Linked DNA regions of Homo sapiens: region 1 is linked to region 2. The links come from fine-mapping of genetic effects on gene expression. A gene starts in region 2. The other region holds a variant in brackets. All regions are shown on one strand. Distances are between the middles of the regions.

Evidence for each region. PIP is the estimated chance that this variant, and not a neighbour inherited with it, causes the effect.
Region 1: its variant is fine-mapped to the expression of ZNF322 in whole blood (INTERVAL, PIP 0.99).

What each region holds. Positions count from the first base shown.
Region 1 is chr6:26,610,097-26,626,221 of GRCh38, reverse strand. No RefSeq gene overlaps it. Among named protein-coding and RNA genes, the nearest start is that of ABT1, 21 kb to the right of the region's middle. The variant A/G (reference allele first, on the strand shown) is at 7,224.
Region 2 is chr6:26,651,056-26,667,180 of GRCh38, reverse strand. ZNF322 (zinc finger protein 322) reads left to right here and starts at 7,435. Exons shown (of 4, transcript NM_024639.5): 1 at 7,435-7,740; 2 at 8,535-8,623. RefSeq lists enhancers at 7,025-7,224, 7,245-7,304, 7,004-7,504, 7,535-7,724, 7,735-7,784 and 1 more.

The DNA of each region.
Region 1 (16,125 bases), 41 kb after region 2:
GAGAATGAAATCTAGACACAGACCTTACAACTTTCACAAAATTTAACTCAAAATGGATTATAGGCCTAATCTGTAAAACACAAAACTATAAAACTTCTACAAGATGATGTAGGAGAAAATCTAGGGACACTTGATTTGATGATTTTTTTTTTTTTTTAGGAGTTTTGCTCTTGTTGCCCAGGCTGGAGTGCAATGGTGCCACCTCTGCTCACTGCACCCTCTGCCTCCTGGGTTCAAGCAATTCTCCTGCCTCAGCCTTCTGAGTAGCTGGGATTACAGGCATGCGCCACCATGCCCAGCTAATTTTGTGTTTTTAGTAGAGATGGGATTTCACCATGTTGGTCAGGCTGGTCTCGAACTCCTGACTTCAGGTTGATCCACCTGCCTCAGCCTCCCAAAGTGCTGGGATTAGAGGTGTGAGCCACCACGCCCGGGCAATGGTGATTTTTTTTAGACACGACACCAAAAGTACAATCCATGAAAGACATAACTGGTAAGCTGAACTTCACTAAAATTGAAAACTTCTCTGTGAAAGATCGTGTTAAAAGAATGAAAAGACAAGCCACATATTGAGAGAAAATGCTGGCAAACCATGTATCAATAAAGAACTTGTATTCAAAATATACAAAGAAGGCTTTAAAAATTCACTAAGAGGGGCCGGGCGCGGTGGCTCACGCCTGTAATCCCAGCACTTTGGGAGGCCGAGGCGGGTGGATCATTAGGTCAGGAGATCGAGACCATCCTGGCTAACAAGGTGAAACCCCGTCTCTACTAAAAATACAAAAAATTAGCCGGGCGCGGTGGCGGGCGCCTGTAGTCCCAGCTACTCGGGAGGCTGAGGCAGGAGAATGGCGTGAACCCGGGAAGCGGAGCTTGCAGTGAGCCGAGATTGCGCTACTGCAGTCCGCAGTCCGGCCTGGGCAACAGAGCGAGACTCCTCTCAAAAAAAAAAAAAAAAAAAAAAAAAAATTCACTAAGACAACAACCCAATTTTTAAAATGGCAAAAGATCTAAACAGACACCACCAAAAAAGATATACAGATGACAAATTACCATATGAAAAGATACCCAACATTGTATGCCATTAGGGAACTGAAAATTAAACCAACAATGAAATTGCATTACACACTATTAGAATGTCAAAAATCCAAAACACTGACACCACCAAATGCTGGCCAAGATATGCAACAGTAGAAATTCTCATTCATTGCTGATAGGAAAAAGCCATATGATACAGCCACTTTGGAAGACATTTTTGCAGTTTCTTTTAAAGCTAAACATAATCTTAACATATGATGCAGCCATCCTATTCCTTAATATTTACCCAAATGAGTTAAAAACATATGTCCACACAATAACCTGCACACAGATGTTTATAGCAGCTTTATTTATAATTGCCAAAACTTGGAAGTAACCAAGAAGTCCTTCACTACGCAAATGGATAAACAAACTGTGGTACATCTATACAATGGAATAGTATTCAACAAATAAAAAGGAATGAGCTATCAATCCACAAAAAAGACATGGAGGAACCTTAAAAGCATTCTTCTAAGTGAATGAAGCCAATCTTAAGGGGCTACATACTATATACTTTCAACTATATGACATTCTGAAAAGGATAAAACTATTAGAAGACAGTAAAAAGATCAATGTTCTCCAGAATGGGGGTGAGTTGGGGGAGGGACAAATGGATAGAGCACTGGGAATTTTTAGGTCAGTGAAACTATTTTTATGATACTGTAGTGGTAGATATATTACATTATACATTTGTTAAAACCCCTATAATGTACAACACAAAGACTGAACCCTAATGTGAACTATGGGCTTTAGTTAAATAATAATATATCAATCTTGGCTCATCAGTTGTAATAAATGTATCACACAAATGTAATATATTAATAGAAGAAACTGTGGGTGGTGTGGGGGCATATAGAATCTCTCTGTACTTTCTGCTCAAGTTTTCTATAAACCTAAAAGTACTTCAAAGAAATAAAGTCTATTCGCCAGGAGTGGTGGCTCACACCTGTAATCCCAGCACTTTGGGAGGCTGAGGCGGGCAGATCACCTGAGTTTGGGAGTTCGAGACCAACCTGACCAACATGGAGAAACCCCGTCTCTACTAAAAATACAAAATTAGCTGGGCATGGTGGCACATGCCTGTGATCCCAGCTACTGGGGAGGCTGAGGCAGGATAATCACTTGAACCCGGGAGGCGGAGGTTTGTGGTGAGCTGAGATTGCACCATTGCACTCCAGCCTGGTCAACAAGAGCGAAATGTGGTCTCAAAAAAAAAAAAAAAAAAAAAAGGAAAAAATAAAGTCTATTAATTAACATTTTTAAATTTTATTAAAAGATGAAGTCAAAAAATATAATATTTTAATGGTTGCTGAAACAGTTGTGTCCTTCTTAAAATAAAAATACTGGTTTTCAGATATAAAGACTGACACAATAACCGTCAACAAATTGATTGCAAAAAAGATTTTGTCTCTGGCCTTAAATACCTTCATCATTAAGTGGTATTCATATTATACTCTATGAGAAAAATTAAAGGCTCTGAAGATGTTATGCCTTTCCTATCTATTTCATCTTTACATATCCACTATTCATCTTTATAATACCCTTAATCTAGTAACACTTTCCCTTATCTCATTTCTCTTTTTCTTTCTCTTTCTTTCTTTCTTTTTTCTTTCTTTCTTTCTTTCTTTCTTTCTTTTCTTTCTTTCTTTCTTTCTCTTTCTTTCTTTCTCTCTCTCTCTTTCTTTCCTTGTTTCTTTTTTTTTTTTTTTTTAACAAAGTCCCTGTCTTTTGCCCAGACTGGAGTGCAGTGGTGTGAACATGGCTCACTGTAGCCTCTGCCTCCTGGGTTCAAGTGATCCTCAGCCTCCTGAGTAGGTGGGCCTACAGGCATGCGCCACCACACGCAGCTCATTTTTTTTTTAAATTTATTTGTAGAGATGGGGTTTCGCCATGTTGCCCAGACTGGTCTCGAACTCCTAGGCTCAAGCCATCCACCTGCCTCAGCCTCCCAAAGTGCTGGGATTATAGACATGAGCCACTGCTCCAGGCCCACACAATATTTTAACTTCTGTTTGTGAACTACCCATACCCCTTATAGTTCTCTTGGAAACTCCTTTGGATAACCCTGATTTAATTTTGTTTGTTCAAGGTTCATACCTGAAAATAAAAACTAAAACTATCAATCAAGCTAAGCCAAAACTGACATATTCACCATTGGTATTTGAACCTCTTCTAGAAGCTAAATCAGCAAACAGCTAAATCAATGTCTTCAACTGGAGGTGAAGACAGCTAGTACAGGCCAAACCCTATTTTTCTAAAAAAATTAACTTCCCATCTCTTCCTTACTGATTTCTGCAGGTTCCTCTGGGGTGCATTCTGGTTTACCACAGGAAGCTTAATAAATCTAATTTTGTTTATCTGTAAGTGTGCTCCCTGCTGGCCTTTGGTTGGTGGGCTTTTGCATTAAGTGTAATATTCTATAAGTAAAATTATTAAACTTGTGAAAAAAGCAGAAGAAAATCTTTGAGATCTAGTGCTAAAAATTAAGAGTTCTTAGACTTGACACCAAAATTACAATCCATAAAAGTAAAAATTGGTCAATTTGCCAGACCTCTTGGTGTAATGATTAGCACTCTGGACTTTGAATCCAGGATCCACTGGGACCTGATCATCTTCATTCCTCAAAACTGTGAAAGACGTCAAAACTAAAAATATATGTATGAGAAACTGGCATAGCCAAGAGGAGCCTAAGGAGATATGACAACTAAATGTGGTACCTTGGATTGGATCTTGGAACATAAAAAGGACATTAGGTAAAAACTAAGGAAATATGAATGCTACATCTATTAGTTAATAATGTGATAATAATGTAATAATTAGTTCATCAATTGTAACAAATAATTATACTGCTATAATATGTTAATAATAGAAGAAATTACAAGAAGAAGAAATAAAAGGCATCCAGATTGGAAAGGAAAAGGTAAAACCATCTCTATTCACAGATAACAGAATCCTCTATGAAGAAAATCTCAAAGAATCTACAAAAGGCTACTTGAGCTACTAAACTAATTTAGCAAAATTTCAGTTTTCAAGATCAACACACACCAATCAGTTGTGTTAATATACACCAACAGTGAATAATCAGAAAGGGGAAATTAACAACCAAGTCCATTTATAATAACATCTAAAATAATTAACTGCTTAGGAATAAATCTAACCAAGAAGCTGAAGGACATGTATACTGAAAACTACAAAACATTGCTGAAAAAAATTTACAAAAAATAAATGGAAAGACATCCCACATTCATGGATAGGAATACTTAATATTCCACTGCTAACACTACCCAAACTGATCTACAGATTTAAAGAAATCTCTATTAAAAATCCAACAGCCCTTTTCACCTAAATGGAAAAGCAGATTCTCAAGTGCTTATGGAATTGCAAGGAGCCATTAACAGCCAAACCAATCTTGAAAAATAAGAATAAAATTAAAGGATTCAAACTTCCTGACCTGTCTGAAACTTACTATGACACTCCAGTAATCAAAACTGTATAGTAGTAGCATATGAAGATATAGGTCCATGGAATAGAATAGTGTCCAGAAATAAATCCTCAGATATATGACTAACTCATTTTTGATAGGGTGGCAAGAGAATTCAATGGGGAAAGGAGAGCCTTTTCAAGAAATGGTGCTAGAGACCCACATATTGTGAACAAAAGTTCTCTGAAAAGAAATTTACAGGAAAGTGACTTTTGTCCAGTGAACAGTTTGCAAATGGGGAGATGCAGCAGCCTTTAAAAACAAAGGTGTGTTCCAGAGGACAAAGAGAGGGTTTTATAGCAAACGTTCCCGCCAAGGTTCCCAATTAGTCCCTTTATGCAAATTAAAGTTTGAAATTTGCTTTAGTTCCCATGGGTTGATGCAGCTGAGTTCTGATTCATCAATACAGCTGAGCCCTGATTGGGTGGTACAGGTGAGCTCTGATTGGTTGGCTCAGATCAGCTCTGAAAGTTCCTAAGTTGAACAGAGATAGCGTTTTCAAGGAATCTCAGAGTACCGGTGTGACCTCTAATCAATAAAAGGCCACTTGGCTGTATTTTAAATCTAGGCCCAATTAGCCACTTAAGGTCCATCTTAAAGATTGGCTCTTTCAGGTTCACATTTGTTCACAATGTGAAAGATTCAAGTTAGACCCTTACTTTATATCATACACAAAAATTAAACTCAAGAGCTAAAACTATAAAACTTTTAGAAAAAGAATTGGGGGAAATCTTTATGACATTGGATTTGACAACGATTTCATAAATATGACAGACACCAAAAGTCCAGGCAGCAAAATAAATAAATAAATTGGACTTCATCAAAATTAATAACTTGTGTATCACAGTACACTATCATAGAAAGTAAAAGACAACCTACAGAATGGTAGAAGATATTTGCAAATCATATCTCTGATAAGAGATTAATATCCAAAATGTGTAAAGAACTCCTACAACTCAGTAGCAAAAACAACTAATTTTAAAATGGGCAGTGGACTTGAATAAACATTCCACCAAAGAAATGTTAGGCTAGTTCTAGTATCTAATATCTAAGAAGTCTTTGCCTAATGTCAGCTCACAAAATTCTTCTCATGCTTTCTTCTAAAAGTTTTAATAGCTAATTTAGATTTTACATTTAGGTCTATGATTCATATTAAGTGAATTTTTATATACAGCATGAAGTTTTGGTGAAGGCTTGTTATTTTTACATACGGATGCTGAATTGTTTCAACAGCGCTTGTTAAAAATACTTTATGTGGGGTGCAGTGGTTCATGCCTGTGATCCCAACACTTTGGGAGACAAAGGCAGGAGGCTGCTTTGAGCTCAGGAGTTTGAAACTAGCCTGGGCAACATAATGAGACCCCATCTTTACAAAAAAATGAAAATTAGCCCGGCATGGTGGTGCACACCTGTAAGTCCCAGCTACTTGGGAGGCTGAGGTAGGAGGATCACTTGAGACCAGGATATGGAGGCTGCAGTGAGCCATGATCATGCCACTGCACTCCAGGCTGAATGACAGAATGTGACCCTGTCTCAAAAAAACAAACAACAACAACAACAAAATACTTTATTTTTTCTCCGTTGAATTCCTTTGCACCTTTATCAAAAATCAATTGCCCACACTCACGTAACAGTGTGTGTTCAAAAAGGCCTTTTCAAGTTTCACTGAAGATGCTACATTCAGAGTTTCATCCCTGAACTGTTTGTGATCTGTACTGTTTTCCAGTGACATCTGTTTACCCACTGCTACTTCTTTAACTGTAAACGGCCTGTGATTCAGTTAGTATGTTAAAAAAAAAAAAGTAATCTTCAATAAAAATACATATCTGAATCAGGAATTATGGCTGTAGATTCGGCTAAAAAAGACAAAGCTGCTCATGAGCAAGTGTCTTCTGAATCTGTGTTTGACTTTGTAGTTCTTTGCTTGTTATCTTTTCTATGGCAAAAAGTTATACTTTATTATTTTTTGGTCCATTTTCTTTTTTAAAGAATAGAAAATTCCAGAACGTTTTTGTTGTTCTTTTTTGTGGCATTTCTCAAGAAACCTATCAAAGATCATGATTCCTTGAAAACCAGGAGAAATAAGGCCAGGTACATGCTCTCTGTTGTTCATCTTTGAACTGAGCATTAAATCTCTGCACAACGTGTATAATTTTGAAAGCATCCTTTTTTTTTTTTTTTTTTTTTTGAGACACGAGTTTTGCTCTGTCACCCAGGCTGGAGTGCAATGGCGTGATCTTGGCTCACTGCAACCTCTGCCTCCCAAGTTCAAGCGATCCTTCTGACTCAGTCTCCTGAGTAGCTGGGACTACAGGCGCACGCCACCACGCCTGGCTAATTTTTGTATTTTTAGTAGAGACGGGGGTGTCACCATATTGGTCAGGCTGGTCTCAAACTCCTGACCTCGTGATCCGCCCACCTCAGCCTCCCAAAGTGCTGGGATTACAGGCATGAGCCACTGCGCCCGGCTGAAAGCATCCTTTCCTATAATGTCAGTCTGTCAATTTTAAATATTTTCTTCATTCTATATTGACATGATTAGAACATTAATATGCAGACAGATTTTTTAAAGAAAATGAGGAGATGATGGAGTCCCTTGAGTTTTTGACACTAAAAGAATAAGTGAATTATTCTTAAATCTCTTAATATTTTTAGCTATGATGTT[A/G]TGATTAAAATTATTGATTTTGTATGAGTTCACAGTTGTTTTCTTATTCATTTCCATTATACATAGTAAATGGCCTTGCTCTAGATACCACACACATATTTTTGATAATATCATTCCAAACTCTTTCCTCTGTCTCTACTCCAAATAAAGTAGTATAATTTTCAAGGAAAAAAAATCAACTATGTATATTTGTATGTGTCTATTTCTGGACTCTCTGTTCTATTTCACTGGTTTGTGAGTCTATCTTTTCACTAATACCAAACTTTTTTTTTGGGTGGGGGGTGGAGGGGAATGGAATCTTGCTCCCTTGACCAGGCTGGAGTGCAGTGGCATGAACTTGGCTCACTGCAACTTCTGCCTCCCGGGTTGAAGCCATTCTCCTGCCTCAGCCTCCTGAGTAGCTGGGATTACAGGCATGTGCCACCACACCAGGCTAATTTTTGTATTTTTAGTAGATACCGGGTTTCACCATGTTGGTCAGGCTGGTCTCGAACTCCTGACCTCGTGATCCGCCCATCTTGGCCTCCCAAAGTTCTGGGATTACAGGCGTGAGCCACCGAGCCCAGCTGCCAAACTTTTAATGACTGTTTCTTTATAATAATTTTTATAATAGCTAGTTTGAGATCTCCAATTGTGTTCTTTTTCAAAATTGTTTTGGCCATTCTGATTCTTTGCCTTTCCATATGAATTTCAGAATCATCTTGTATACATATACAAACAAAATAATGATGGGTTTTAATTTAAATTGGGTTACATTCATAGATCAGATTGTGAGAACTAACATCTAAACTGTGTTTAGTCTTCCAATCTATGAACATGGTATATCCCTCCATTAATTTATCTGTTCTTTGATTTAGGTCTATAACACTTTGTAAATTTTAATATACAGACTCTGCACATGTTTATTAGATTTATATCTAAGTAATTTAATATTTTGGAGCTTCTGTACACAGTATGTTTTAAAATTTTAGTTTCCAATTATTCAATGATAGTATATATAGTATTGATTTTTTTATGATGAATTTGTATTCTGCAAACTCATTACTTATTGGTGCTAAGAATCTTTTATTTTTTATTTTTTTGAGATGGAGTTTCACTCATGTTGCCCAGGCTGGAGTGCAATGGTGCAATCTCAGCTCACTGCAGCCTCTGCCTCCCAGGTTCAAGCGATTCTCCTGCCACAGCATCCCGAGTAGCTGGGATTACAGGCATGCACCACCAAGCCCGGCTAATTTTGTATTTTTAGTAGAGACAGGGTTTCTCTATGTTGGTCAGGCTGGTCTTGAACTCCTGACCTCAGGTGATCAGCCTGCCTGGGCCTCCCAAAGTCCTGGGATTATAGGCATGAGCCACCATGCCCAGCCAGTGCTAAGAACTTTTTATAGATTTCCTTGGATTTTCTATGTAGACAGAAATGTCATCTGTGAATGGGAACATTTTTTATTGCTTCCTTTCCACTTTTTATGCCAATTTCTTGCCTTATTACACTGTCAAAAATATCAGTAAGACATTGAATAAGAGTGATGATAGTGGGCATCTTTAACTTGTACCTGAACTTCAGGAAAAGCATTCAGTCTTTTGCCATTAAATATGCTGTCTAATATACATAATTTGTAGATGTCATTTATTAGGTCAAAAATAGTTGCTAGGAACAGCAAACTCCTCCTAGTTTGCTGAAAGTTTTAATCATGAATGGTGGTTGATTTTTGTCAAATGCTTTTTCACATTCATTGATATGATAATGTGATTTTCTTTTTTAATCTGTTAATGTAGTAGAGAATATTGATTGATTTTCAAATATTCAAACAGCCTTGCACTTAAGGGATTAACCCCATTTACCAGTGGTGCGTTTTTAAATAGATTTATTTTTTAGAGAAGTTTTAGGTTTACAGCAAAATTGAGCAGAAAGTACAGAGAATTCCGACATACCTGCTACCTCCTCCACTATGCAGAACCTCCTCCACTATCAACATCCTGTACCAGAGTGGTACATTTGTTAAAATTGGTGAGCCTACACTGACACATCACTATCACTCAAAGTCTATAGTTTACATTAAAGTTCACTCTTGGTATTGTACATTCCATGGACTTTGACAAATGTATAATGACATGTATCCACCATAATAGTATCATATAGAACAGTTTTTCCCTAAAATCCTCTGTACTTTGTCTATTCATCCCTCCCTACTACCCTCCCTTACTCTTAACTCCTAGAAACCACTGGTTCTTACATTGTCTTCATATAGTTTTGCCTTTTCCAGAATGTCATATACATTATTTGGAATCATACAGGATGTAGCCTTTTCAAATTGGCCTTTTTCACTTAGTGGTATGCATTTAATGTTCATTTTGGGTGGGTGTAAATGGTATTGTGTTTTTAATTTCAAATTCAACTTGTTTTTTGTTGGTATATAGAAAACATTTCACTTTTGTATATTAACCTTATATCCTGCAACATTGCTATAATCACTTATTAGTTCCAAGAATTTTTTTCAGTTCTTTCAGATTTTCTACATAGACAATACTGTGAACAAAGACAGTTTTTATTTCTTCCTTTCCAATCTGTATACCTTATATTTTCTTTTCTTGTCTTATTGCATTAGCTAGAACTTCCAGTAAAATGCTGAAAAGGAGTGATGAGAGGGACATCCTTACCTTTTTCCTAATTGTATTTCTAAATATATATTGCCAGATTCAAATTCCTATTATTTTGCTGGGAATTTTTGTGTCTATATTTATGAAGGATAGTAGTAGTTTTTCTTTTCCTGTACTGTCTTTATTTGATCTTGATATCAGGATAATGTTGACTCTTCCAATGAACTGTTTCACATCTCAGCCTCCAAACTCTTGGTTTCCAATCCATTCTTCCAAGTTGCCAAAATGAACTCTTTTTTTCTTTGCCTTTAAAATTAAAATTATGGCTGGGCGTGGTGGCTCACACCTGTAATCCCAGCACTTTGGGAGGCCGAGGAGGGTGGATCACCTGAGGTTGGGAGTTCAAAACCAGCCTGACCAACATGGTGAAACCCTGTCTCTACTAAAAATACAAAATTAGCTAGGCATGGTGGCACATGCCTGTAATCCCAGCTACTCGGGAGGCTGAGGCAGGAGAATCGCTTGAACCCAGGAGGCAGAGGTTGTGGTGAGCCGAGATCGCGCCATTGCACTCCAGCCTGGGCAACAAAAACAAAACTCTGTCTCAAAAATAAATAAATAAATAAAATTATAATTATGTTCACTGTTTTGTTACTGGAAAGATATAATACAAGTAGAAAATTTGGAACAATATACCACTATAACATTGCCATTCCTCCCAATCCAGTCCCAAACCAGAGTTAATCACTTTATTACAGTTCAATCTATATCCTTTCAATTGTTCTTTTATGCCTTTGTAAACACATCTCTATCTATATATCAATAGCCATTTTAAAATATAAATAGAAGTATGATTTACATAATATACTGTGTATCAGGGACAAGATACAGAACACTCACACACACAGTCTGTCTTGTCTGTTTTCCCATCACATGACTTTATCTAAATTATCTTTATATTAATTAAACACTCCAATTTTTTTTTGGATATTTCCATTGTTTCCATTTTCCACTCTCCACTCTAATAAAGAAGCCCACTGTGAACACACCCCAGATCTGTGCTGAGGTCTTGGTGCCTTATCCAGACTTCCAGCACTGAGGTGTCTCCCTGCCACATCTCCATCAGGCCTGCACTGCTCGCCCCGGTGTTGATGTCCTGCTGCTAAATCCTTCCTCACCCCCTGCTGCTCCCTGGGGTCTGTGAGTTGGGAATATCCCAATTAGCTTTACTGATAACTCATTTTGTATCCAAAGGTTGAGGAGCCCTTGAAATAACAATTTTTTTATCGTTGGGCAGTATAAAGGTGGGTTTGATGTCCCGCGTAGGATGAGTTGGAGTTTGGAGAGGCTGGAGATGCAGATCCTATGGGAGATCAGTGCGAGAGCAAGGGCAAAAGCAGCTCCACATCTGACTCCTGAGAAGCACAGGACCAAGATCCCATGGTCTGTCTTCAGAAATCACCACCTCCCCAGTGAATTCTAAATATAATCTTGTCCTTTCCCGATAACTTCCCTCCCATCCTTGGTGCACAATCTGAAGTTGTCATAGGTGAGAGAGACGTGAAGGAAGAGGGACCCAGGAAGAATTTTCACTCAACGAAAAATTTCTAAAGACCTGTGGGGCAAAAACCCTGGAAACTTGAATTTTCCTGCGAGAGAGTTTGCCATTTGACCCTTTCCCCCCGGGATCGCCAGCGATGGGCAGTAAGAAGAAAAAGCCAGAGCCCCCAGAGACCGAAGAATGAAGGTGGCACCTTCCACACCACCTGCCTGCTGTGTCCGAGGCTCCCCGCGATCCTCAATCCCTGAGGTCTCAAGCTCCAAGAGGGGCGCCGCCGCAGGGACTCAGGGAATGAGAGGGGCCAAGGGCCTCTCCCCGCCCGTCCCCTCCTCTCCCGAGAGGCAGTTCCCTGGAAGGCCGCTACCACGCCGCTGTCTGGCGCTCACCGTCAGAATTTCTCGGGTAGTCTCGGAAAGGCCGCGCCGAGCATTTGACCTGGAGAGGGGGGCTCGGAATTCGGGAAAGGGAAGTAGCGCCGCCCGCAAAGACAGAGAAAGAGGAAGGGGAGGCGGTCAGCGCTCCTACGCTTCTTCCCGACCCCTCCCAGCAAATTCTCAGCCTGTGGCCTTCGACCCGCACCAGGGCCCGGTGTGGGTGGAAAGGTAAACCGACTCTCTTCAAGCTGAACCTTGAAGCCGGGATCAGGGAGCGCGAGCCCCCTGTACCCAAGCTCTGTCCGCCCCGAGGGACCACTGCCCCACAGTCCCCAGACAGCGCGGCGCTCCTGGGCTAGCGCGCTGCAATTCCCAAAGAGCCAATGTCTGTTATCCGCAGCTGCAGGAAGAGGGGCTAAAGCCCTGTCGCTGGGTCCTCAAACTAGAGAGTAAAACATCAGCATCGATTAAACACACCGTCCGGCGGCACGAAAACAAGTCAGGCAGTCTGGATCTTGGCACCACACCGGAAGGGTGAGGTCCCGCGGCGCTGCGCAGGTGAATGAGAAGGTTCTTGGGCTGGGAACCCGGCTACCGGGAAGCCCGCTGTTTGTTAAGGAACCTTCCCCGGCAACTTGCCTTTAGGGTCCGGACAGCGCGGAGGGAGAGTTCCCGTGTGCCCGGGAACCCAAATCTGAGACTTCCAGCAGTTAAGCAGGAGCGGGAGATGAGGCAGCCGGGTAGGCCTATCAGTCCTGATGCCCGGGCTCCTCTTTCGCAGGGTTTGTTTTCCTTTGGTGTCTCCCAAGCCCTCGCTAAGGCAAGTGATAAATGAGATGGCTGGACGAGAAACTGGTGGGGACGGGGGTGGCAGAGCTGGGGCTGGGGACGCTCTTTGGGGTTGTCGCTATACCTCAGTGGTCCCTAGTGCCCATGTGCTGGGCGCTGGCTGTCTAGAAGGGCTCCAGGGCCGCGGAAGACCCGTGCACATCATTCATCCCTGACGGTCACCTGTCACCAGAACACTGTGCACTTCGCGCGGGGTCTCATCGGCAGCCAATGAAAACTCCCTGGAGGCAGTATCCAGCTCGAAAACCCAGGTCCAGCCACATCACTCACCAAAGGTAGTTCTACATGGAGAAGCCTGATCCCTCACCGCCGCCTTCCTAGGGGGACCAGGAGCTTTCGGAGAAGCCCGCCAGCCGCTGGCTCTCTACGACCCTGCAGTGTTCAATACATTGATGTGTTTCGCCCCACTCCCTTCCACAGATTAGCCAGGAGGTCACCCTGCAGGAGCCTGGTGACCATCAAGATTGCTTCCCCTGACCTCATCCAAGTGAGCCAGTTTCCAGTACCAAAGCCGACTTTGAGCTAAGCACCCTTAAAGCTTCCAGACCCTTATGGCACAAAAAATCAAACCGAGGCCCTCAGAGAATGCAAAAAAATGAAAGTGGAAGACCCAATATTCCCTGAGCCAGGACAGGAAAACAAGTCTCCAGGAGACCAGATATTCACATTCAACTGTGATAGCCAATGGGATCCCTGTTTATTTGGTGCCCGAGTCCCTTGAAGCCAAACCTCCATTCCCAGAGCTCAGATGACCACTAGAATAAGTCTCATCATCCCTCCAAGAGCCCCTTGACCAGCATATTCCCAAGTGGTCCCCTCAGCTCCAACAGAAATGACATTGGCAGCTCCTACAGCTCTCCTGGAAACATTTCAAAGACAGGGAAGAGAGGAGGTCCCAGTTTGCAATTTCACATCCCTCCTGATGTCTAAAGTACTCATTATCCTCTTCCCCTAAAAAAGGCACAGAAGAGCTTGAACCCAGGAGGCTAAGGTTGCAGTGAGCTTAGATCATGCCACTGAACTCCAGCCTGGCGTCAGAGCAAGACTCCCTCTCAAAAACAAACAAAAAGGCACAGAAAAACATCTGTCCACACTTTGCTGTATAGGGATTAAACAATGAGGTTCAGGCTGCAGACACTCCCTCACAGAAGAAAACAAAGCAAAACTCAAGGAATACATCGCCCACATCTGTTAGTTCTGGGCCTCATGAAAGCAAAACTTTGCTACAGCCTTCTAAGCCATAGGGGGAGGGTATCCTGTCTTCAACTCCCCAACTTGGTTATGCAGTCACTGCAGAAAACTTGGACAAGAAAGCTGCACTCTGGTAGGTCAACGAAGTCATAAAGGAGCAGACTGAGGCCACCAATGACTATCCTGAGATTGTGCCTGCCACTCAGCCCATCCTTTCTGTCACCCTACCTGCTGCTGGGACTGCACCATTTCCAACTACCCCTCCATTTGGGAGCACTAATCCAAGCTGGAGAGCTTGAAAGTGATGCAGAATACCCCAGGCCCACTGGCCTTCCTATAGTCCACTGGAGGGATAACCTGTGTGGCTGCTTTGCCTCAGGAGACATCCAGCTTGCTGACCCCTTTGGTGTCCTCGAAGTCAGAGACACTTCCAGGCACCTCTTCAGACTTGAGGCCAACAGTCACTTACTCCTGGTTGACTCCTGCTTCTACCACATTACTCATCACTGACCCCACCAAGCCACCTCTGACCCCTCAGGCTGACAGGTCTGCCAAGTCCCCAACCATCCCTGCTCTAAACCAATTCCTGTAAGCATCCCAACCCTTAATTCTCCTACATATACAGATCCTTCTGGATCTTCTGATCCATCTATATTTAGGCTAGTATAGAAGCCCAATCTAAAAGAAAGAAAGAAGGCCACTTGGGTCCCACACAGTCACCTGACAATGAGGCCACTGGCTCAGCGTTTGATAGCACAGCCCCATGAGCCTTCCTTTTGGAGAAATGCCAATCCTAAGGCACTGGTGCTTTAGGATAGGTCTGTCTAGCTCAGTCAGGAGTTCCATTTCTGGAGCATTCATCAGTGAAGCAGGCCCTAGTAGGACCACTGGTGCCATCAGTCTTTTGGGGTATACTTGGTCCTGAACACCCAGGATCCTTTATTCAGGGCACATGATTTTCCTTCAAAGGAGACAGCACCACAGAGTAAGCCTGGGTTTCGAAACCTCTTCACTGCTGCCTCAGTCAGAGTGTCCTGCTTAGAGTGGGCCTGTTAAGCAGCAGAAGTGCCCCTAGGGAACCAATGCCCCCTGACTAGGGTTCAGTGGGAGAAGGACCTGTCAGAGCACCAGCACCTTCATTTTCCATCAGTTTGGGATATAAGACAAGAGCTCAGCCACAGCTGCAAGCCCAGAAGCAACAACCTTTGGGAAATTTCCACAACTTTTCTGCCCATGCTATTGACACTTCTCTTTTTATTTTATTTATTTTTTATTTTTATTTACTTTTTGTTTTTTGAGACAGCATCCCTCTGCCACCTAGGCTGGAGTGCAGTGCTGCGATCTCAGCTCACTGCAGCCTCTGCCTCCCAGGTTCAAGTGATTCTCCTGCCCCAACCTCCCAAGTAGCTGGGATTACAAGCGCCCTCCACCACACCCAGCTAATTTTTGTATTTTCAGTAGAGAAGGAATTTCACCATGTTTGCCAGGCTGGTCTCAAACTCCTGACCTCAAGTGATCCACCCAGCTCAGCTTCCCAAAGTGCTGGGATTACAGGCTTGAGCCACCGCGCCCGGCCGGCATTTCTCTTTTCAATATGTAAGCTCAGATAGGAGTCTTACCTTCCTGCTTTTCCCTGGGAATATGCTTGCCTGAAGAAAAGGGAAGATAGTCTTTCCTCACTTGCATCTTGGGGGTGGGAAATTGCATTTGCCTTTAATCTTTCCCTTCCTTGGTCTGGCTTTAAAGTGTGGTTTTCTTCCTCTGGCTTTTTTTGATGGAGTTTCGCCAGATTGGCCAGGCTGGTCTCAAACTCCTGGTCTCAAGTGATCCGCCCACCTTGGCCTCCCAAAGTGCAGGGATTACAAGTGTGAGCCACCAGGCCCGGCCCCCTCTGGCTTCGTAGGGAGCCTGTTTGTCCACATTTCACTAGTTGTTCATACACAGTCCTTGGAGGAGCTCTAAGAAAATCTTGAATCTAGCTTATCCTTGGGAAACATTGATCATCCCCTGAGAGACACTGTGGATGCTACTCCTGCTGAATGACTGCCTCCCACCAAGTCTGCACTGTCCCTTAGAAAGATAATACTCAGACTGGGCACGGTGGCTCACGCCTGTAATCCCAGCACTTTGGGAGGCTGAGGCAGGTGGATCACCTGAGGTCGGGAGTTTGAGACCAGCCTGACCAACAAGGAGAAACCCTGTCTCCACTAAAAATGCAAAACTAGCTGGGCGTGGTGGCACATGCCTGTAATCCCAGCCACCCAGGAGACTGAGGCAGGAAAATCACTTGAACCTGGGATGCAGAGGTTGCGGTGAGCCAAGATCATGCCAT
Region 2 (16,125 bases):
CTTTGCATGGGAACAATGACTTTGCAAATGTGATTAAAGTTAGGAGTTTGAGCTAGAGAGATTAGCCTGGATTATCCAGGTGAGCCTAATTTAATTACATGAATCCTTAAAAGTAAACAACCTCTCTCTGCTGTTTCAGAGAGCAATTAAATGACAGAGGATTAGAACGAAGTGACATGAGAAGGAACTGATCTTTCATTGCTTGTTTTGAAGATGAAAGAAGAGGGTCATAAGCCAAGGAATGTAGGAAGCCTAGAAGCCAGAAAGAGCAAGGAAACAGATTCTCCAGAAAGGGACACACACTGCCAACATAGTGAAACCCAGTTTAAACTTCTGATCTACAGAACTTTAAGATAATACATTTATTAATATATTTTTAATACACTAAGTTGTGGTAACTTGTTACAGCAACAACAAAAAACTAATTCACATTCCTCTTAGGGCAGGGGTCCCCAAACCCCAGGGCGCAGACTAGCAACAATGTGTGACCTGCCATAGCAGGTGATGAGTGGCAGGCAACCGAGCATTACCACCGGAGCTCCGCCTCCTGTCAGATCAGATTTTCATAGCAACACGAACCCTATTATGAACTGCTCATGCAAGGGATCTAGGTGGTGTGCTTCTTATGAAAACCTAATGCCTGATGATCTGAGGTGGAACAGTTTCATCCCAAAACCACCTTGCCCCACCAGTCTGTGGAATAATTGTCTTGCATGAAACCAGTCCCTGGCCCCCACAAGATTGGGGACTGCTGTTTTAGGGTATACAGGGTCATATCTGTCTTGAGAACTGCTGCTTCCCTCTTCCAAAGCGATTTGGGGGCATGATTTCCCACACACATAAAGCCCTTTGGTGAGAGTCTGCTACTCACCAAATGAATAAATTAAAACTGCCCCAATTGTGTTCAAGAATGTCTACCTAGATTTTTGGTTAGCTTGAGGTTGAGGTACTTTATGATTGTTCTCCAAAAAGAAGAATCACTGGTATCTTACAAAACAATTCCATTGAACCAGAAGTTATTTCTTGACTATGTTTTACTTGCTTCTTATTTTTATTTTCTACTTTTTTCCTTCACTTGCAAAAGTTTCTCCCATTTGTTTTGAGGGCTTCTATTATCTTACACACATCAGCAAACAGTTGCTGATTGATAAACTGACAATTAATATGCTTTCTGTTAACTTAAAGATATTGTTCTTCAGCTGCAGAAGAGGAGGGACTACAAGGGTCTATACAAGGTTTTACTTGCTCATCTGAGCTGATAATGAATCCTTTTTAAACTACCTTCTTTTCTAAATTGAAACCTGAGTCTGCATGACTCACTAGGCAGGATTTACAGAAAATGTATTAACTAGGATACAGAGCCAATGAATATAAAAGGTACAGCACAATGAGACTTACAAATGTAACTCAAACACTCAGGTGCTGTCACCTCTACTGTGGGCAATCTCAGAAAGATTCACTCTATTCAGGGAATATGCTTTAGGTTCACCTAAACTTCCTTACAGTTTACCTTCCTCAGGTTGTGTTAGTACCCTTGAGGCTAGTCCTCCAAGTATATCTGCTTGAGGATGGGCTGAATGAAAGGAATCTTGGGAAACAGAAATAGCAAAAGAGAAATCTGAATGTAAATGAAAAACAAAGATATAATAAAATCAAGAGACAGAGACAAAGACAAAAAAAAAGACTCAAAAAGAAAAAAGTTTCAAATTTTTTTGCACTTGTTTGGCATCTACGGGCTCAGAAAACTTTGGATCCAAAAAGAAACAGAGAGCATGGTTCCCCTTAGAGCAGCAGTTCCCAACCATTTTGGCACCAGGGACTAGTTTCGTGGAAGACAAATTTTCCACAGATGGTGGAGGGGGATGGTTTTAGGATAATTAAAGCATATTACATTTATTGTGCACTTTACTTCTATTATTATTACATTGTAGTATATAATTAAATAATTATAGAACTCCCCATAATGTAGGATCAGTGGGAGCTCTAAGCTTGTCTTTGTGCAACTAGACTAGACTCACTGGGCAGGATTTACATAAAATGTCTCATTAACTTAGATACAGAGTCTATGAGTATAAAAGGTACAGCACAGTGAGGCTTACAAATGTAATTCAAATACTCATCTGGGAGTAATGGGAGACAGTGACAGATCATCAGACATTAGCTTCCCATGAGGAGCATGCAATCTAGATGTCTCTCATCTGCAATTCACAATAAGGTTCGCGGTCCTATGAGAATCTAATGCCACTGCTGATCTGACAGGAGGTGGACCTCAAGCAGTAAGGCGGGTGATGGGGAGCAGCTGTAAATACAGATGGAAGCTTCACTCACTTGCCCATCACTCACCTCCTACTGTACAGCCCAGTTCTGAAGAAGCAACTAACTTGTATGTGGCCCAGGGGTTGGGGACCCCTGCTTTAAAGAATTTTTTTCTTTTTTTGAGACAGGGTCTCACTCTGTCACCCAGGCTGAAGTGTAGTGGCACAATCTCAGCTCACTGCAGCCTCAACTTCCCAGAGGACTCCAGGGATCCTCCCATCTCAACCTCCTGAGTTGGTGGGACCACAAGTGTGCACCACTACATTCGACTAATTTTTGTATTTTAGGTGAAGATGGGGTTTCACCACATTACCTAGGCTGCTCTTGAGTTGATCTCGAACTCCTGAGCTCAAGCAATCCACCACCTTGGCTTCCCAAAGTGCTGGGATTACAGGTGTGAACCACCATGCCAGCCCTAGAACTAACATTTTAATGGGTATCTATTACATGCCGAGTCACTATGATGATACCTTTGCATTAATTACTACATTTCATTCTTACCTCAGCTCAGGGAGGGAGGTATTGTCTTATGAACTTGTAACAGTCAAGATGGAAAGACAAAGTAGAGCACTGTAAAACAGATAAGCTGGAGAGCTGGACGGAAAACACAGAAAAGGCAGCCACGCATCATTCAGGAAAAGGAATAATGGTGAATAGCCAGATAGATTCAATGTATGAGAGAAAAGGTAAATTAAGAAGAGATGGGCTGGATGCAGTGGCTCACGCCTGTAATCCCAGCACTTTGAGAGGCCGAGGCGGGCAGATCACCTGAGGTCGGGTGTTCGAGACCAGCCTGGTCAACGTGGTGAAACCCTGTCGCTACTAAAAATACAAAAATTAGCCAGGTGTGATGGCGCATGCCTGTGGTCCCAGCTACTTGGGAGGCTGAGGCAGGAGAACCGCTCAAACTCGGGAGGTGGAGGTTGCAGTGAGCTGAGGTTGTGCCACTGCACTCCAGCCTGGGCGACACAGCAAGAGTCCATCTCAAAAAAAAAGCCAGGCACAGTGGCTCACGCCTGTAATCCCAGCACTTTGGGAGGTCAAGGCAGGTGGATCTCTTGAGGTCAAGAGTTCCAGACCAGCCTGGCCAACATGGTGAAACCCCAACTCAACTAAAATATAAAAATTAGCTGGGCTTGGTAGCGCATGCCTGTAATCCCAGCTGCTTAGGAGGCTGAGGCAGGAGAACTGCTTGAATGAGGGAGGTGGAGGTTGCAGTGAGCCGAGATCATGCTACTGCACTCCAGCCTGAGCGACAGAGCGAGACTCCGTCTCAAAAAGAAAAAAAAACAAAGAAAAAAAGAAGAGATGACATGGATGAAAGACCTTTTCTGTACTAAGTTAAAATCTAGTTGGAGTAACAGGTACGGAACAATCACCAGAACTCTCAGTAACAAGCTGCAGCAGATGAAGAAAAATTGAGGCCACTAACGTTGATTTTGGGTCTGACTCCTGTAAATCTCCATTAACAGTGCATGCATCAGGATCCCAAAAATCGCAAATATGCCTGCCGTAGAGACACAGAAGAGGACTTTCTCTTTTTCAGAGTTCCTTCGTGGAAACTTTCAGCTTAGATTTCGGCAGGAAAAATTCTAACATAGCCAAAACCTGCCATAGTATTCTTTAGCCTTCCTCTGACCCCAGTTGTTTCCTTAAGTACCTTGGGAATTTCCACTGAAATCTTGATTATGTCCTGTTCTTTAGATCATCTGTCTGTCCTTTATTGCATGGTCTAAGGTATTCCTTTTTAGTGTGTAAATCACTTTGGAAAATGATTTAGAAAAATAAAAAGACTGCATGGTGTCTAAGAAGAATTTAAAGGGTTTTCAAATGGAATTCCAATGTATCTACACCTTCCAAAAAAAACTCTCTCCTCAGTCTCAAATCCATTGATCACTTTCCTCTACAACTCATCAACTATCCATACTTTATCCAACCCCAACTCATACCCTGCATGCCTCTGACTTGCTTGCCTAATCATGTTCATCCAACCAACATTAATTGATCATATAAGTAACCTATTTGACGTCACTTTCTACTCAAATTTACCTTTCCACCTCAATATGATTCATACACTAAACCTATGTTGTCCCCTGATCCTGCTCCTTTTCCCTGATCTCCAATCTCTTATCCTTCTACTTGACATTAGTCCAAACTTATATTTCTTATTTCCCAAATCGCCATGTCCTTATTCTTACCAAATATTTGGCCGAACTAAAGATATAACTCAATCTTTCTCTCCCATAATCAGATCTTATCACATTAGTTCAGTCACTCACATGATCTAACCCTCTTAGGTGATGTCTCTTTATTCTCTCAGAAGGAGAAATCCTAGGAAACTGCAATTCCCTGCCTCATCTTATCACAAATGCTGCCCCTTATAAACGAACTGCTTCCACAGAATATGTTTCCATACAAAGGCTACTTATATGATTGTCAGATGCAATACAGGATGCCCAGTTACATTTAAATATCGGATAAACAATGAACCATTTTTTTAGTGTATGTCCCATGGGAAAAATATATTCCCTAAAAACTTTTTTAAAATCTATTGTTTATCTAAAATTCAAATGTAACTGGGTTTCCTGTACTTTTTTCTTTCTAAATTTGGCAACCCTAGATACATACACTCTCCATAGGACCAATCTACTTTCCAGTGGATAATCTCAGAAAGAAGTTTCAGACCTACTGGCTTCTAGGAAACAAGATACTGAAATGCACCTTTCCAGGGGCTGCAGTTCACAATTTCCCACTTGCTCAACTCTAGTCACAATAGTCTTTCCATACCCTTCATCTCTATCCTCAAAGCCAGATCCTCTTCAGAACCACAAGAAGTATGTTGCCCAAGCTTGGTCTGGAACTCCTGGGCTCAAGTGATCCCCCCACCTATGCCTACCAAGCAGCTGGGGCTACAGGCATGTGCCACAGTGTCTGGTCAAAAACCTCTTAACTGAAACTCTCCTCCCTTGGTTGTCGTAGTCCACTTTTGTTTTCCTCATAATTTCCTGGCTGCTCCTTCTTACTCTTTATCCTCATACTTAAAACTAAAAATAATCTTTCTAAAGATTTTAAATGTGGGGATAATTGCCCTATTTCCACAGCTTGAAATTCCAAGAATTGCTTCCCATTTCATATAAGATAAATTCCACTAACTGAAATCACATTCAAATGTCTCTGTACTTATTTTCCATCTTCCATTTCAGGCTCATCTTCAGCCAACTCCTTACTTCTATTCCTTCGAGTCTCACCTTATGTCTCATCTCCTACAGAGTCTTTTCTGACTCTTTCTCAAAGTTCTTACAAAGTGCTTCACCTCTATGCCCCCAGATGACCTTATACAACTTCTACCTCTACCACACCACCTAAAACCCCTGCCGTCTCCATACCAGACTGTGAGCCATTAAAGGAGTGGTATTGAGTCTCACTGGCCTTTAATTCCTAACACACAGCATAGTGTCCTGTTTTTTTGGTTTTTGTTTCTTTTTGACATGGAGTTTCACTTTTGTTGCCCGGGCTGGAGTGCCCTTGGCTCACTGCAACCTTCACCTCCCAGGTTCAAGCGATTCTCCTGTCTCAGCCTCCCAAGTAGCTGGGATTACAGGCATGCGCCACCACGCCTGGCTAATTTTGTATTTTTAGTAGAGACAGGGTTTCACCATGTTGGTCAGGCTGGTCTCAAACTCGCGACCTCAGGTGATCCACCCGCCTCAGCCTTCCAAAGTGCTGGCATTACAGGCGTGAGCCACCGTGCCCGGCCTATGGTGTCCTGTTAATTGGAGGTGCTCAATAAATGTTTAACTGAATAAAACAATTAATAAAGAGTACTTTGGGCCAATGTATCCTGAAAGAAAAGGTTGAACAGTTCAATTCTACACATATTCAGACCTTGTTATATGCAGTGCAGAGATCAGAATCCAACTTGCTTAATTTTTATTCCAATAATTTTACACAATACACTCACCACTATTGAGGTAGCCATAAGTATAGTGACTGCAAGCACAGAATCTGGCATCAGACTGTTCACATTACAGCTTCATCAGTAATATGTGATCCTGGGCAAGCTACTTAATCTCTCTGTGCACCAGTTTCCTCCTAAAAGAATACATATCTCACACGATTTTTGTTACAACTGAATGAGACAATAGTGTAAAGTTATTAGAACAGTGTTTGATACATGCTACACACTCAAAATGTTATTATTCAAAATATTAAGACAACCCTGAGTGGAATATTTTGACCTTGAAAGTTTCATTAAAAATAAACATGAAAGTAGAATAAGCTGTAGACCCTCTGCGGAAGAATTCCACTAGTAGGAACATGATTAGTTAATACTGAATACGTGTCTCAGAGACTGCGCTCCCCAATTACTAAACCTCAGCAACTGGCTCACAATCCAAGTCCTTGGCCAGGCTGCCCAGGGTTTAGTTTTCCATATTCCTACTACTCATCTTTTCCCTTTGATAGCTGAGGACATTTAAAAACTGTTTTTTGTTGGTTTGTTTTTTTTAATTTAACAATTGAGCTGGGAGAATACCCAGTGTTCAACCTAAAGAACTGAGTTCTGTTCCAGCCCCACCACTAGGTGATTTACTCTTAGCTGATTCCAAATCAGAAACATAATCAGCAAGGACTGGGGAACCTCCCACAGTACTTTCTCTCGCTGCTGTTTTCTCCACCCACACAAGTCCACCACTTTTAAAAGCATTTCTTCCATCTCGCTGGCCACATCTTCGTGGATGACAGCGCTGCCACTGTGCTTCAGAATCCTCTATCTCTCCCAGATCTTTCCTGGTGTTTCTCTCAGGGTCAGTGGCATCTAATCTTTGTGACTCTACTCCTGGTTTGAGTCCTCGGTTAACAGCCTTGGGGAAACTGTAACATAAACTGCAACGCTGTTGGTGCCGTTTCTTCTTAGACAGGGTGGCAGCGATCGCCTCCCCCCGCAGCCGGCCTTCCACTGCGCCAGCAAGACCCCCTCCCACCAAAACGCCGAGGGCTCCCAGAGCGCAGGCGCCCCGGGCCCCGCCCCTTTCCGAAGACTCGGCTCCTATTGGCCCAGGGGCCGGGGTTGGAACGCCCTAGTGGCCGGAGAGGGGTGATCATGTGACTTGCGGGGGTGGGGCTGCGCCGGCCTCTTCCCAGCCAGCTTGAAAGGGTTTGCGTAGCCGGCCTTGTGGGCCCTTGAAGCGCTCTGTTAAAGCGCTCTGTGGGCGGCCTGGCCCCAACTCCTCTAGTCTAGGCGCACGAAGGGAGTTGCTCCTAGGTCTTGTCCGTGCCGGGTTCGCTTTTCTTTCCTTCCCGAAGCCTGGCCCTTAGATCTACTATCGCAGAGTCTGCGGCCGCCAGGAAGCCCAGATTCGAGTGTCCGGAGAGTAACCGGAAGTGCTGTCCCCAGGCCTAGGGGCGGCGCCGGCGGCTGCCAGGGTAAGCGCGGCCTGCGGGGCCCAGGGGTGGGATGGGTGCGCGGTGGGACCCAAGACCCACGGCCACAGTCGAGTGGGAGCAGCCCCTGTTCCTGGACACTGAGCATGGTCTGGTCTCCGCTGACGGCGGACGGAGGACTGAAAGATGGTCAATGAAAAGTTGAAAGAAGAGAACCTTAGTACGGTAGTTCCTAGAGATAGTAAACACTGCAAGGCACTTTTCAAAGCAATATAATCTTTCATATATATCGAGGAAAAAAAGGACCTTGAATGGATTTTTCGCTTCATCTTCAGTGCAGAAATTAGTTATGTTGCAGTTGAATCTATCTGCAGAAAAATCTGGTTTGTTTAATCTTCCTATAACCATTTCTTTTTGGAAAATGGAATTACAGATAACTTTATATTATATACACTTATCACATGCACTTTGGGGTTTGTAGTGGTAGACGAATGGGTCTTTGATCTTAGGAGTTGAGATAATACAAACAAAAACAATTAGCAGAAGGAGAAAAAACAAACGAAAAACGAGGCTTAGGGCTTTGTTATGAAGTTACAGTTAGTAATAGAAAGATTCTTGACATTTTGTCTAGAGCTGGTCGGAACTGATGGCTACCAGTGGCAGGTACTTCCTGCAGGAGAAACAGTGTAAGCAAAGATGGGAAGAGGTAAGCTATGGTTGAAGGATGCTCACTAGAATGGAGAGGAAATGGGACCAGTTTTCTAGGCCAGCTCTAGAAAAATTATGAATTATAAATTTCACAAGGTCATCGTCTACATTATTGATTTTTCCTCTAGGAGAGGCAAGAATTGAGTGTTGTGAATAGTTCTGAACTAGAGACCTTTTGAAACCAAAAGGAAGATGGTCTTGAGTCTTTCTTGTTACGGTAAGTGGTATACCAGGCTCTGTTTCTGTATAAATGTGGATGGGGGTGTGGGGTGGGGCAGGGTGAAAGACAGGAAAGTATGGGAGAAGATATATGGAAAAAGAGAATGCCCCTTTCTTAGCTCCTAAGATAGCAGAGTGATAAAACTGAGCCCTATCCTACCAACTTAAGGCTATTTTCTACTCCTTTTCAACATGCATGCATATTCACATTAGGCTTGCAGTAATTGCTTTTTGATTGATTTGTAGCACAAAGAGGGTAGTATGCCTAATGCTTAGGCAGGCTCTGGAGTCAGAAGATAGGTATTGAAATCCTGGCTCTGCTGCTTACTATTTGTAAGTTGTTGGGTGATTATCTAACTGCCCTAAGCATCAGGTTTTCCATCTATAAGATCCAAACACTGGTATTAATACCTATTTCATAGGGTCCTTGGGAGGACTAAATGAGATAATCCATGTAATCAATGAAAAATAAATGAGAAATTTCCAAGTCTAAGGCCTATAAACACCATCTAATTTTTAAATAATGCTTTACTAACTTTGTCTCTTGGTCCCATATACCCTTTAAGGATAACCATGAACTCTCAAGTTGTATGAATTAGCCTGTCTGCTTGGACTTTTGTCGTGTTCCAGTTTATTCCTTTCACTTCGACCCTAGGCAGGAAAGAGTACTAGTCTCTTCCTAGGATGGGGCAAGAGAAGCATCCTGAAGGAGGGTACCCTGGAGCTAAGACTTGAAAGATGTATTTGGGCTTGCTAGATGAACCAGCCAGGGCTACTGGTCTAGTCTGTTATACAGCTACTGGGGGTCCAAGGATAATGATTGCCTTTTTGTTCTGGTATTTGTTCACACTTTTCATTTATTCAACAAATGTACTCTAGGTAGTAGGGATATTACAGTAAGCAAAAGACTAAGTCCTAACCCTAATAGAAGTTATATTTTAGTAAAAAGACAAACGAATAAATATAAAATGTATACCATAAAGTTGAATGGTGATAAGTGCTGTGGAGAGAAATAAAATGTGATAAAGCAACACAGGCTATTTTAGATAAGGTAGTCAGGGTATGCTGCTTTTTGAGGAAGTGATCTTCAGGCAGAGACTTGAGTCCAATAAAGGAGTAAGCTGCATGGGGAAGAGCATTCTAGGCAGAAGGAACAAGTGCAAAAGCTCGGAGATGGCCTGTGAGGCTGAAGATAACGCAGAGGTGCCACATTATGTAGAGCAGTAAAAACTTTGGATTTTATTCTGAGTGTGCTAGAAAACAGTATTTTAAATTAGGGAAGTGTCGTGATTTTTTTTTTTTTTTGAGATGGAGTCTTCGCTCTGTCATCCAGGCTGGAGTGCAGTGGCACAATCTCAGCTCACTGCAAGCTCTGCCTCCCAGGTTCACACCATTCTTCTGCCTCAGCCTTCCAAGTAGCTGGGACTACAGGCGCCCGCCACCACACCTGGCTAATTTTTTTGTACTTTTTAGCAGAGACGGGGTTTCACCGTGTTAGCCAGGATGGTCTCAATCTCCTGACCTTGTGATCCGCCAGCCTCGGCTTCCCGAAGTGCTCGGATTACAGGCATGAGCCACCACGCCCGGCCTTATGATCTGTTTTGAGGTTTGACACCCAGACTTATTTTTTAGGTGTTGACATCTAAAAAAAGCTTGGATATGAATAGGAAAATTATTTCCTTATTTATTCAGTTTTTTTTTTCTTCTTCTTAATGCCCCACACTTCATTGGTTGTTTAGGGCAAATAAGACATCTTGGACTGATAACTTTAGGGAATAATGTAAATGATTTGCCTGGCTGTGACAAAACTAAGAATCCTTTATTTTCACTCTATTCTCCTTTTGAGCTTAACACTAATACAAATTTTAAAAGACAAAACCTTTTATGAACCCCCCATCTTATAACAGCTATTTGTCTGTATCCCGGCATATCTTTACTTAGTTGTGATTCTGAGTTGGAATTCTTCCTTTTCCTTCTAATATTTCTCCATAATTTTTTTCTAGTTTTTGCATAATCTTCATATTAATCATTAACTGGCCAAATTGTTTTATTAGTTATTGCAAGTGGGTTTTGAACAAGGCTTTGCACAAGAATCAGGCATAGAAAATGGGCTTAATACATGTTAGTGGTTTTGTGCATGTGAAGGTAGAATTAAGAAAATAATAGAATCTACCATTTATTAAGCATCTACTGAGACCTAGGCATTGAGCTTAGTACCGGCAGTGTCTTTGTTCTCATAGCAACTCTGTGAGGAAAAAAGAGAATATTGAAGTTGAAGGAAATTAAGTTACTAACCCAAGTTCTCACAGCTACAAAGGAGGAGAGTGGGAATTTGAACCAAAATCTGCATCCAGAGCTTAAACTGTCAGTATTAACCACCAAAATAAACCAATCTTTAGCCACCATGTTTTTTGAAAACCAAAATAAAATACCTTTTAATTTTGAATAAGTACAGATATACAAAAAATTGCAAAATGGTACAAAGAACTCCCATATACCCTTCACTCATATGCTCTAAATGTTAACATTTTACCATGTTTGCTTTATGATTTTGCCTCTGTCTATTAAACAAACGTTTTAGTCTGTTTTGGGCTGCTATAACAGAATACCATAGACTGAGTAATTTATAATGAACAGAAATTTATTGGCTCATGATTCTGGAGATTCGAAAGTCCAAGACGGGGGCTGGCATCTAGTGAGAGCCTTCTTGCTGTGTCATTTCATGGCAAAAGGGCAAAGAGAGGGTGAGAGCAAGCAAGAGTGCTCAGAAAGGGACCAAACTCATCTTTTTGTGAGGAACCGACTCCTGAAATAATGGCATTAGTCTATGAGGGTGGTGCCCCTGTTACCTACATACCTCCCATTAGGATCTGTTTCCCGACATCATTGAATTGGGGATGAAGTTTCCAATGCATTAACTTTGGAGGACACATTCAAAGCATAGCAATACACATATACATATGTATAGATTTTTCCCTGAGCCATTTGAGAATAAATTGTAGACATGTCTCTTCTCAAACAGAGAATCAAGCCATGGAATCCTGCTCTCCTATGCATGTACAGTACTGCTAGCTACATGCCATCCCTAGGAGAACTGAGAAAACAGTCATTCGAATACATTTTCTTTGGGGACTTCTTTTCTAGAACCCTAATTGAGAAAGCCTGTCCTAAATATTCAGTTGTATATTTACTAAAAACAAGGATATTCTCTAGAAATTATCATTACCATTATCGGAGTCAGGAAATTAACATTCATACAATAAGTACTATTATCTAATCTCCAGACCTTATTCAAACTTAGCCAATTGCTCCACTCATGTTGTTTAAGACAAAAAGAAAAAAATGTTTTCTGTGGACCAAGATCTAATTCAGCATCAGTCATTTAATTTAATTATAATGTTGTCCCTATTGTGAACATATCTTCAGACTTTGTCTTTCATACCTTTGACATTTTTTGAATATTTAGGCCATTTATTTGGTAGTTTCCCTCAGTTTGGGTTTTTCTGATGTTCCCTCGTGATCAGATTCAGTTTAGACATTTTTGGCAAGATACCGCAGAAGTGATGTTATGTTTTTCTCTTTGCATCATATTAGGAGGCTCATGATGTTTTATCTCATTACTGGTCATGTTCACTTTAGTTGAGGATACCATTAGGTTAAGGTGGTGTCTTCCAGGTTTCTATACTGTGAAGTTACTCTTTTTATATTTATAATTATTAAATATCTAGTGGGGAGATATTTTCAGATTATGTAAATATCTTGATTCTCATAAAATTTTTCATCCAGTAGATTTTTGCACAGTACTCTTCTTTTGATTGAACATCGTGAAATTTTTAATTCCATCATTTCTTCTATATTTGTTTGCTTTTCTAATGCAAAAAAACTTTCCCTTCTATACACTTTTTTTTAATGAGTACAAATTCATGGATTCTTATTGTGTGACTAATTTATTACTGTTATTACTTATTTCAATGTTCTGCTTGTTCCAGATTTGTACAGTGGCAGTCCTTCCATCCTGAATTGTGGGTCCTTCTGGCATATTGCACCACTTTTTGAGCACTTCCTTACTTTCTGACACATCAGGATGGTCCAGGCTTATCTTATACTTTCCAAACCGTGGAAACAGCCATTTCTCCAAAGAGTCTTGATTCTTTTCAATGTAGAATGGTATTTAGAAACCCATGTCTGAATGCTTGGTATACTCATTACTACTAGGATTTTATTGTTTCCATGACTTCTCAGCAAACATTACTAGGAAAAAAAAATAAACATACGTAATTTCACACATATATACGTTTCTTTATTCTCTATATAAACCTTAAAATCTTGACTTATACTGGTACTTCTAATTCCAGTTAAACACTACAGAGTTCATTCTAGCCTTTCTCTTTTCTGTTTGTAGCCTTCTTCATTGACAATGGGGAATCTAGGTGACATTATCCATAGTATATTTACTTATTTATTCGGTCCTAGGATACACATTAAGTAGTGTACCCTTATCCCAACAGGGGAGAAAATCTGTACTGATTCGAGTTATTTTTATCTTTAGATTGAATATACATAGTCCCAATATTGTGTTAGAGTTATTTTTTTTTCTCTTCTGTGTAGTTGTTATTTATTTGAAACACAGGCGCATTTGTTTTTATGCTTTTCTCTTCCATCTTGACTATTTAGTTCATTAGTTCATTCATGTATTGAATATGTAAAATGTAACATAATTCTAAAAGTAAAAATATGTGTGCTGTGTATTCATATTCTCAGAGAAATGTGACTCTTCTCCTCCACCCAATTCTGTTTTCCTGTGCCATCAATTCCATTTTTATCTGCCTTGTAATGATAACCAATCTCATTAGTTTCTTGTTTTTTGGGGCAAGTGGAGAACTACATATATAATTTTTTATTTTTACTTTCTTACATAAAATACAACATACTTTTTTACACTTTGCTTTTTTAAATTTATAATTTATCCTGGAAATCACTCCACATCAGTTGATAAAGATTTTCCTCATTCTCTTTTACAGTTGCATAGTACTCCATTATGTGTGGATGTATGTACCATAGTTTATTCACCATTTTCTTACATACAGATATTTATTTTAAATATTTTCCCGTTACAAACATTACTATGAGTAATTTTATGCTTTATATTTTCATGTTATTGGAGGTGAATCTTCAGAGTCCATTTCTAGAAATGGGATTGCTGAGTCAAAAGTAAATGTATATCTAGTTTTGTTACATATTGCCACATTCCCCTCCGGACGAGATTGTACCCATATGCATTCCCTCCAGCAACGTATGAGTTTGTTTGTTTCCTTACAGTGTTGACCGCAAAATGCATTGTCATGCCTTTTAATGTATACTGATTTAATTGGTGATACTGGTATTTCATGTACTTTTAAAAAATTATTTCTTTTTTTATAGACTTACCAGTTTGCATTCCCTCCAGCAACATATGAGTGTGTCTGTTTCCTTACAGTGTCGACAACAAAATGCATTGTCATACCTTTTAATATATGCAGATTTAATTGGTGAGAACTGGTATTTCATGTACATTTAAAAAATTATTTCATTTTTTATAGACTTTATTTTTTAGAGAACTGTTAGGTTCATAGCAAAACTGAGCAAAAAATACAGAGAGTACCCATATGTCCCCTACCACTCTCTTTACCCTGACACATGCACATACCACACACATAGCACACACAGCATCCCCCGCTGTTAATCTCTTCAACAGAGTGATACATTTCTTACAATCAGTGAACTTAAGTTGATACATCATTGCCACCCAAACTCCATAGGTTACATTAGGGTTCACTCTTTATGTTGTACATTCTATGGGGTATCTACAATTTTTTTTTTTTTTTTGAGACGGAGTTTCACTCTTGTTGCCCAGGCTGGAGTGCAATGGTGCGATCTCAGCTCACTGCAACCTCTGCCTCCCAGGTTCAAGTGATTCTCCTTCTTCAGCCTCCCTAGTAGCTGGAATTACAGGCTCCTGCTACCAGGCTCAGCTAATTTTTTGTATTTTTAGTAGAGAAGGGGTTTCACTATGTTGGCCAGGCTGATCTCGAACTCCTCACTTCAGGTGATCCACCCGCCTCAGCCTCCCAAAGTGCTGGGATTGCAGGCATGAGCCACCATGCCTGGCTTGACTTGCCAGTTTTTTTAAACTGGTTTGTTTTCTTGTTGAGTTTTAAGGGTATATGTATATTTTTGTATATTTTGGAGATTTTTAAATGTTTGGAATAACAGTCTTTAATCAGATGTGTCTTCTGCAAATATTTTCTCCCAGTCTGTGGCTTGTCTTCTCATTCTCTAGACAGTTTATTTCATAGAGCAGACATTTTTAATTTTAAAGTCCAGCTTATCAATTTTCCTCCATGGATCATACCTTTGTTGTTGTATCTAAAAAGTCATTGCCAGCACAGGCATGGTGGCTCACGCTTATAATCCTAGCACTATGGGAGGCCAAGGTAGGCAGATCAGTTGAGCTCAGGAGTTCAATACCAGCCTGGGCAACATGGTAAAACCCATGTCTCTACCAAAAATAGAAAAAATTAGCCTGGAGTAGTGACACATGCCTGTGGTCCCAGCTACTCAGGAGGCTGAGGTGGGAGGACCACTTGATCCTGGGAGGCGGAGATTGCAGTAAGTTGAGATCGCACCACTGCACTCCAGCCTGGGACACAGAGCGAGACCCATCCCAAAAATATAAAGTCATTGCTATACCCGAGTTTATCTAGATTTTCTCCTATGTTATCCTCTAGAAGTTTTATAGTTTTGTGTTTTATACTTAGGTATCTGATTCATTTGGGGTTTGTAAATTTTTTTTAATTGAGAAGTAAGTATGTATGTATTTATGATGTAGAACATGATGTCTCAATATATGTATACATTGTGGACTGGCTAAATCAAGCTATTTAACATATATTACCTCACATACCATTTCTTGTGGTGAGAACATAAAATCTACTGTCAGCAATTTTCAAATATGCAATGTATTTTTATTAGGCATGATGTAGAACTCTAGAACTTACCTACAGTACAACTCTAGAACTTATTCCTCCTGTTTAACTGAAATTTTGTATCCTTTGACCAATTTCTTCCCAACCCTGCTATGTCTCAGCCTCTGGTAACCACCATTTTACCATCTGTTTCTATCAGTTAGACTGTTTTATACTCCATATGTAAGTGAGGTTATGTGGTATTCATCATTCTGTGTCTGTCTTATTTCACTTAACATAATGTCCTCCAAGTTCATTTATGTTGATGCAAATGAGAGAATTTTATTCTTTTTTTTTTTTTTTGCATGTGAATGTCTAGTTACTTCAGCACCATTTGTTGAAAAGACTGTCTTTTTCTGCCTTGTATTTATTGCCTTTGTTCCTTTATCATGGATCAGCTGACTCTATTTATATGGGTATATTTTTGGACTCTATTCTGTTCCATTTATCTATTTGTCTGTTTTTTCACCATTACCACACTTTCTTGATTACTATA